2 separate regions of the Homo sapiens genome follow, and region 1 is linked to region 2. Evidence: fine-mapped QTL for protein levels in blood plasma. A gene starts in region 2. The other region holds a variant in brackets. All regions are shown on one strand. Distances are from middle to middle. Region 1 overlaps PON1 (paraoxonase 1). Region 2 holds the start of PON1 (paraoxonase 1).

The links. PIP is the chance, under the fine-mapping model, that this variant and not a neighbour inherited with it causes the effect. Protein levels are from antibody-based Olink assays in UK Biobank. Linkage for the fine-mapping came from a reference panel and not from the study's own genotypes, which makes the PIPs less certain.
Region 1: its variant is fine-mapped to the plasma level of the PON1 protein (UK Biobank, PIP above 0.99). The variant lies in the coding sequence of PON1. If it changes the protein, the assay may bind it differently, which can mimic a change of level.

The regions. Positions count from the first base shown.
Region 1 is chr7:95,306,264-95,310,654 of GRCh38, reverse strand. It overlaps PON1 (paraoxonase 1), which reads left to right. Exons shown (of 9, transcript NM_000446.7): 6 at 2,444-2,644; 7 at 4,289-4,370. Among named protein-coding and RNA genes, the nearest start is that of PON1, 16 kb to the left of the region's middle. The variant C/T (reference allele first, on the strand shown) is at 2,548.
Region 2 is chr7:95,322,027-95,326,428 of GRCh38, reverse strand. It overlaps PON1 (paraoxonase 1), which reads left to right and starts at 1,897. Exons shown (of 9, transcript NM_000446.7): 1 at 1,897-2,027. The coding sequence starts at 1,954. RefSeq lists a silencer at 1,774-1,953.

The DNA of each region.
Region 1 (4,391 bases), 16 kb after region 2:
GTGTGCACTCTGTGTTACCAGGACCCCTTCCTCTTCTTTCTTATCTGGTGGTTTGAGGATGAGGAAAATGAGATTGGAGAGAAATTGAGTTACTGGATGAAGGCCAATCAACTCACTAGTGGCCAAGTAGGAACCCCAGCTCAGGTCATCTTCTGCCCCATCAAGATGAATAAAAGTTCAGAGAACAGCTTTTGGTGGAAGAGTTTATTCGTGCATTTATTTAACAAATATATTTTGGAGAGAGAATAAGGTCACTGAGTGGAGAATGTGAGGAACACCAAGATTTAAAGTAGAGAACAGTATGTAGAATGGAGAAGCTGGGCAAATGATAACACTAATAAATGAGCTTTCTCTGTAAGTCAGGTGCTACACTAACTAATTCAAACAGATTATTTTATTGATGTTTTACAAATACCTTCTGAATTAGGTGTTATTATTATATCCATTTTGGATTTTTAAAAAGTTGAGGCCTGGACTAATTGTTAAGTTTCCCCAGATGACATCATCAGTAAATGGTGCAGCTGTGATTCTAATCCTGGTAACATGAGTTCAGAGCTGGTGCTTTAAACCTCTACAAAATAGTGAAAAAAATTATGTGTTTTAACATTTAATCTTGGAAATCTCAGATTGGTCTACGTTACCGGATTGGAGTATTTTTTTCTTGAGCCAGTTGCAAAAATATTGGTCTTAGGCAGCATTGGAGACTGAAAATAACCACGGTGCCGTAATTAACTAGAGTTCTGCTCTCTCAATCCAAGGATTAGCTGTGTGTATTTTCTTCTTTGTATTTTATGGTTTTTTATAACATTAATATTCCAATAACTAAATCTATTATAATTTAAACTTGTTATTATTCATATATCACAACTGTTATTATTGGTCATTTACTGTATGCCAGGCATGGTGTGAAGGCCTTTGCATTCATTATTTCATTGTATTCTTACTCTAGCCTTTCAAGGTATACAGAGAAAACAGAGGTTCAGAATAGTGGCTCAAAATTTAGTGACAATGCTGTGGCCCCACATTATAAGGATAGCAAGCAGTGTCAGGATGCAAATGAAGTCCATCAGATTTCAAAGCTATTACTCTATTACCCTTTAAAAATTTGTTATTTATTTACTTATTTTACTACACCTGGGGGTAGTAAATTTTCAGCAATAAAAAGCTATTGCTCTAAACCATTCCACTCTGCCCCTTTCTGTGAAAAACAGACAAATGATAGTCCAGCATACTAATTTAAGAAATTTACTTTTAAAAAAGAGAGAGTAAAATCAGATTGTAGATTTATGTCTGGAGCCCATCCAGACTAATCCTAAATTCCGAGACCTTTTTTTTTTTTTCATGTTGTAATAGTGGCTAGCATTGATTGAGGGTTTATTGAATGTCATGCTCCCTGCAAAGCACACAACAGGCATTGTCTCATTGTAATTCCCACTGCAACTCCACAAATTAAGATCCTGACCCTTAGTTTTCTACTAATGAGCTGTATGATTTTGAGAATATCATTTAACCTCTCTTTACAGATGAGAAAACTGAGGCTCTGCATGCCTGTCTAACTTGCCTGAGAGCTCAGAGCTGCGTCAGAGCTGATGCGCTGGCCATGACGCCTCTGCAATAGAGCAGAGATAATTTTCTCCCAGATCATGCCCTGGGGAACTTCCATCACCTCAATCAGCAAAGAATGACTCACTTATGTGTTCCCTATTGTATCCATTAAAGCAGAAAAATAGACTCATATATCTTACATTTTCAGTAACAGAGAATCCTAATCAGAAAGGAAAAAAAAAAAGCCATAGCATTCTATTTCTGAGCATTCTTGTTCATGGACATTTCATTCAGTTTAGAATCACGAAATCTTAAGGCTGGAAGATCAACCAGTCTATCATCCTGCTTTCACAGATAAGAAAACTGAGGTCCTGACATGTGAAAAGATTGATTTTTCTTAGATCACACAGCTAATAGTAGCAGAGCTTAAACTAAAATGCAAGTATCCAGGCTGCTGGTTCAGCATTTTTTCAATTTCTTATGGGAGTTAGTTCTATGTGAGCCCAGATATGTGAGCACATTTTTGCCCTGACAATGATTTCTGGCTTAATTTAATTTCTACTGAATTTAGTGTATTTACACACAGACACACACAGATACACACACACACACACACACACACACACACACACACGACGTAACACTATTTTAAGATACATATAATAGGATTTTTATGTTACAGTGCTATAATCACCTCCTCAGATTTCTTAGACCAATGATTGTCTAAGGATTGTATCGGCAGGACTAATTTCATATTAATTGTGTTCCATTATAGCTAGCACGAAGGCTCCATCCCACATCTTGATTTTAGGAATAGACAGTGAGGAATGCCAGTTAATAATCCTGTAATGTTCAATACCTTCACCTTATATATTATGTGTGTATGTTTTAATTGCAGTTTGAATGATATTGTTGCTGTGGGACCTGAGCACTTTTATGGCACAAATGATCACTATTTTCTTGACCCCTACTTACAATCCTGGGAGATGTATTTGGGTTTAG[C/T]GTGGTCGTATGTTGTCTACTATAGTCCAAGTGAAGTTCGAGTGGTGGCAGAAGGATTTGATTTTGCTAATGGAATCAACATTTCACCCGATGGCAAGTATGTGAACTCTCTGAAATGTAGTGGATTTACTCAGATTCTCAGGAGATATCTTGGAATATATTCTTTTTTTAAGTAATATGATACATTTTAACATGTTACCCTAGTGAGATAAAATTAGGAAAAATGTAAAATGTCTTAATTTTTCAGGGGGTGAAATTTATCAAATCAAAAATTTCATTGTGAAGGCATACTGGTTTTATTTCCTTTTTGGAAAGAAAGTACATTTTAAGAGGGGGAACTGTGATGAAGATTTGATATGTCTGAATAGCTTTGTTTTGAGTAAAGATGTGAGTGTATAATGAGTTGAATAGTATGCAGGTATAGATACGTCAGTAGTGCAGGTTTATGACAAGATGAGGAATTTGTACCAAAATGTAAATCAAGGCAATACTTCCTTCATCAAGAAAGTATTACTGTGAAAAACAAGTCAGTTTAACTAAGCAGTGTGCTTAGTGATGTATTTGATTTATAATGTTATCTCATGGTGAGCTATAACAAACAATTTGCAAACCAACATTGGTCTGGAGACTGCATTTTGGGTAGCATTGGTATATACATGAAATATCTATATCCATCCACATATATGCCCTTTCTCATCTTGTGTCATCATCAAGGATTTTAGAGTCCGTAACATATGCTTAGAGAAAGCAACAGGGGCCAGGTGTGGTGGTTCATGCCTGTAATCCTAGCACTTCGGGAGGCCAAGGTGGGTGGATCACCTGAGGTCATAGACCAGCCTGGCCATCATGGCGAAACCCCATCTCTACTAAAAATACAAAAATTAGCCAGGCGTGGTGGCGCACTCCTGTAATCCCAGCTACCAGGGAGGCCAGGCAGGAGAATTGCTTGAACCTGGGAGGTGGAGGTTGCAGTGAGCTGAGATTGCACCACTGCACTCCAGCGTGGGTGACAGAGCAAGACTCTGTTTTTTTTTAAAAAAAAAAAAAAGAAAGAAAGAAAGAAAAGAAAAAGCAAGCAAGCAAGCAAGTGAGAGCAACAGGGACAGGGACAGCTTTTAATTATTCATATCATAGACCAGTTTTCAAAAAATAGAAGATAATTGAGCAGTAATTTCTTTTTTTTGTTGGGGGGATGCACAGTGCTTAGACTAACCCCAGATCTTTGTGGGGTATGACTAAAGCCACAGGGTCAGGACCACACTCAGGGCAGAAGAGGAGGAAGACTTCTCTTGATCCAAGCCAAGCAGCTTTTCTTCTCTCATATTTTCTCTGGATTAAAACAAGGGGCTGTTGTCCAAGGGCTTTCCTGCAACTTTCCCGAGAGAGAACTCACTAGCCCCTGAAATGCAGAACCTGGGCCTTGACACTAAATTGTCAAACCAAAAGAGAAACGCTGTAATGCATTTTACTCCCAGATACTAAAAGTTAGTGTTAGGGCTAAGTTCCTCCCATACTGATAAGGACAACTATGTCCCCTCCTTCAGAAACAACTTTTCAGAGATTAAACCCCTCTGTCACTGTAAACTCACTGAGTTCTTTCAGAATTTGGTGTGTTTGAGGTGGGTTCCATTTTCCATTCCTTAAGCAAAGTTCTTCCCTATGAATAGGTATTACAACTTCATCTTAATCTCTCAAGTTGTGTTACTTCTAGTACTTTGATGTAGCTCTTTCTTCTTTGAAGGTATGTCTATATAGCTGAGTTGCTGGCTCATAAGATTCATGTGTATGAAAAGCATGCTAATTGGACTTTAACTCCATTGAAGGTAAGACGTATTAACACTGTA
Region 2 (4,402 bases):
TTGTTATGCAGCATACGATAACTAATACAAAATAGAGCCTATAGGACTGACTGATCTGTTTGGTGCAAGAGGGTGTGAGGAAAAGAGATGGATGAAAGAAGATATGTAGATTTTGGACTTGAGCAACTGGATGGTAGTGATGCCATTTATTGAAGTGTGAGTTTGGGCAGGGGGGATTAAGAGTTTTCCTTTGGACACATTTTGAAAAGACTGTTAAACACCCCAGTGGGCATGTCAACCAGGTAGCCTGCTGGGCCCTGCCCAAATTCCTTATGCACTGTTTATGAGCATAAGAAAATGATTGTTTGGTTTAGCAGCTAACCTTGTGAAATATCTCCAATCTTCCATTCTCACCTTAACCCATTCTAATATGGTTTGTGTTCTTTTGACTCGTGTAGAATTTGTTCTTATTAAACCACCTATTGTATCCATGTTATCTAATTCAGTAGTTACTTCTCTGCCATAAGCATACTCAACTCATAGCCACATTGGACACAGATCATCATTCCCCCTCTTTTCGAATACTCTTCTCTTTTGGATTCATTGGTTCTACTTCTTAGGTAGATTCTTCTGCTCCACCTGGTGTTAACCAGGGTGGCTTAGCCAGTGGTATTCAGTTGGTGGCCAGGCTGTGGTGGCTGGGCTTGTCTAATAGCCCACTTCATTCATTTCTGCTTCCTTGGTGCCGATGGTTAAGAGGTTGGCTTCAGCTGACCACTTTCCCTCTCCATATGTTCATGGCCTTTCATGTGAATGCTCCAGTGGAGTGGTCAGGTTTTTTACATAGTAGCTCAAGGCTTAAGAGCAAGTGTTCAGAAGGAGCAGAGAGAGAGGGCAGTAGTTACAATGTGAGGCCAAAGAAGCTTCCCCCCAGAAAGCTAAAGGTGATAAGTAAAGCATGTTGGTATTGGCTGGCAATATTCCACAAGAGATGAAAGGACAGATATTGCAGAAGAGAGAAGGTATAACTGGGACCAAAAGCCTTGAGAAGGAAAGAGACATGGAGCAAATCATTCACAGTAACAGCAGACAGCAGAGAAGAGAGACATGGTTGTACAGAGGCACCTCCTTTGGGTCTTTACTCAAATGCCCCATTATCAGTGAGAACTTCTCTGACTGCTATTCTTCAGCAGAGGGTATTCCTTATCCCCTTTCTTGCTTTATGTGTTTTCTCCATAACATATGTGCATATCCATAACACACACATGCATCACCTAGAGCATTATATATGCCACAGTGACATGTTTTGCTGATTTCTCAATTGACTCCCCCCATTGGAATGAACGTAAGCTTGAGGAAGACGTTTTGTCCTGTTCTGTAGCATCTAGAACAGCGCCTGGCACATAGTAGGTACTCAATAAATGCCAGCTGCATGAGGAAATGAATGAGCTGTGTGGGGGATGTACTTGAGTGAACTCTAAAGTCAGAGTGGTGTTGAGAGAAAAATGCTTGAAATCCAGATGTTGGAAGGTGACACAGAGTAGTAGCCTGGTGAGAACAGTTAGATCTTAGGGGTTCCTACTACAGCCCTCCCTTCCGCACCTTTTTGGCTGTCACCATGATCAAGCTACTGAATCTCTCTGAGACGCAAGGACCGGGATGGCACAAAGTGAGTGCTCACCAAAGCTTGACTGTCCTTTCCCATGGCAATTTACTTCAGCTTGTTTGATTTCCCCTCCCCGACTGGACTAGGCACCTATTCTCTGTCTTCTCTCTTTACAGTTGGAAGGAGCAAAATGGGACTTTTGGCTGAAAGTGCTGAGCTCCTGCGGTGGGGGCTGACCGCAAGCCACGCCTTCTGTGCACCTGGTCGGCCCAGCTAGCTGCCGACCCGGCGGGGAGGGGCGGGGCGGGCCAATCGGCGCTGCCCCAGCAGGGCTGCGGCTGCAGGCAGGCAGAGCCTCCTAGCCCGTCGGTGTCTGCGCCCATCGATCCCTTTGTCTATCCCCGACCATGGCGAAGCTGATTGCGCTCACCCTCTTGGGGATGGGACTGGCACTCTTCAGGAACCACCAGTCTTCTTACCAGTAAGTTGGGTTGTGGTGAGGGCTGCAGCCTTCGTCCTCCTCACTCCCTGCCAGCTCCACGAGCCCCCAGAAAGTTGGGTCCAGGCTGTTAACAGAACATTTACAAGCAGGTGCTAGATGCACACTCTGCGGGGGTTTCATAAATGTTTGTCCAGCCGTCATGTGTCACTTGAAAACAAACTCTTGCTCATGGCCTGAGACATGGGATAAGGAGGCAATTGCCAGGGGTGTGAGTGCCCAGGTTGTCAGCATACACGAATTAATTTTTCATGAAGATTTGTGTGCCCTGGCTACAGATTCACTTCTCAACCTGGAAAGAAACAAACTAACCTGGCTGGGGGTTCTCCTGATATTTTGTGTATTAGAGAAAGGAGCCCCTGTCGCTTCTGCGCCTTGACTGCCTGGCCATGGCAAACCTTCCAGGCTTGAAGATTCTCAAATTGAGGCTACTGAGGGCCACAGCAAAACTGCGTGTGGACCCGAGCAGGTGGAGCTAACGTGTGCTGTGATGGTTCGCTTCAGTGGGGGCAGGCGGGGAAGAGGGAACCCTGGAGCCAGCATCTGATGTCCTGGGGTTTAGCTCTGCCCCATGAGTATGCGATTTGGGCAAATCACTTTACATCTCTAACCTTAGCTGCTTCAGTAAACTGGAAATAGTAATACACACTGCCTGCGACAGAGTAGCTATTCAATAAATGTTAGTTCCCTGCTTCCCTTTAAAGTATTTAATAAAGGGTTAAGTGCTATACAAGGGGGGTGGGGATATTTTAAGAATGTATCAAAAGTTTCATAACTTTTAACAGGAGTTCAAAGTCTACAGATCATCCTAGTCTCTAAGGCTTAGTCAACAATGCCTTATTTACTTTAAAGTAAAACCTAATAAAAATTAAATATAAAAAAATTATATGAGCTTATGGACTAATTAGAAGCTTACATTCAGAATGGGTTTTTACTATTTATTGTGGATGTTTTTCTAATTTTTTTAAGTTACAGAGTGCAGAAAAAAAGTAAGAAGCAGTTGGTATTCTTGGCTTTTAAATCATGTAAAAATTACAGTTTGTGAGTTTTTATTAATCACAGTGCTGGTGGCTGCCAAAGGAGATTATAGGTATAGATAAAAATATATAGATAAAGGATGGGTTGCTGAGCCTCCTGGAGTGACCCAGACAGAGGAAGGAAGGGAAATTTTACCCACTGTTGGAAACCCCTAAAACCTAGCTACTCAACTGGGTCTGGGGACCAGATGCCTGAGCATCACCTAGGGGCTCCCTGTACAGGCAGAATCTCAAGCCCTACCCCACACTATTGAATCAGAACCAGCGTCATGGAACAAACTCCCTGGGGGATTAGAGATCATGAATCTGCCCCAGGGAGAGAAGGCAAGAGATGATATCATGAGGCCTGCATCAGGAGCAAGCCAAATCCCCAGGATAGATGCATCCTTTTTTCTTCAGACTTGGAGTGTATGTGTGTGCGGCTCACAGGAAGCTATATATGCCTGGGCTGGAGGGAACTTAAGGAAGCACACAAGGGATGCCTCAAGAGATTTCTGAGTTTCCCAGGTGGGAGCAGTACAGAGAAAAGAACTGAGAGAGTTCCCCTAGACCACGAGTCTCCCACCCACGAGTCTCCCACCTTTGTAGTCGGCTGTATGTGCCGCACAAGTCCAGGGAATGCCTTGGATGATGGTAGAAACAGCTCCCCTCCCCTACCCCAACTTGGGCTATGGAATGTTGCAGCATCTGTATGGCAACTTCCTTGTCCCTACATTGCTAATTGCAATACGTGAGTCCACTGAGTTTCCCTTCTCAGAAGGAAACCACAAAGCTAACGTTGGGCCTCTCGATGCATTTCTGCCATTCCATGCTTACTGTAGGCAACACACAGTTGTGGGAAGAGAGTAGTTGTGGATTCCTGATGACCTGGGTTAGATATCATTTCTGCAACTTTCAAGTTATTTTACCACTTTATTCCAGAAAAGTTCCAGCCAGTTTCTCCACCCGAAAATTAGGGGATAATAATACATATTACAGCATATATATATATATATACACACACACACACACACACATACATATATTTATATTTATATAAAACATATAAATAAAACTAAGTATATATATATATATAAAAATCAGGCATATAGCAGATGTCCTGTAAACGTTAGCTTTTATAGCTGTCATATGTGATCTCAAAAATATAGAGTGATACTTGAATATGTATTATAATCATACTTCATTGAAAGTCTGAGATAAGGACAAATAATCCTCCAACCCTCCAGTCTCCCCTATGAATGCAACCAACACCATCTTCTCAGTCTGATGTACTTGCCTAGTATCTCCACAAAACACTTCAGTGGACATCTGCAGAGTACC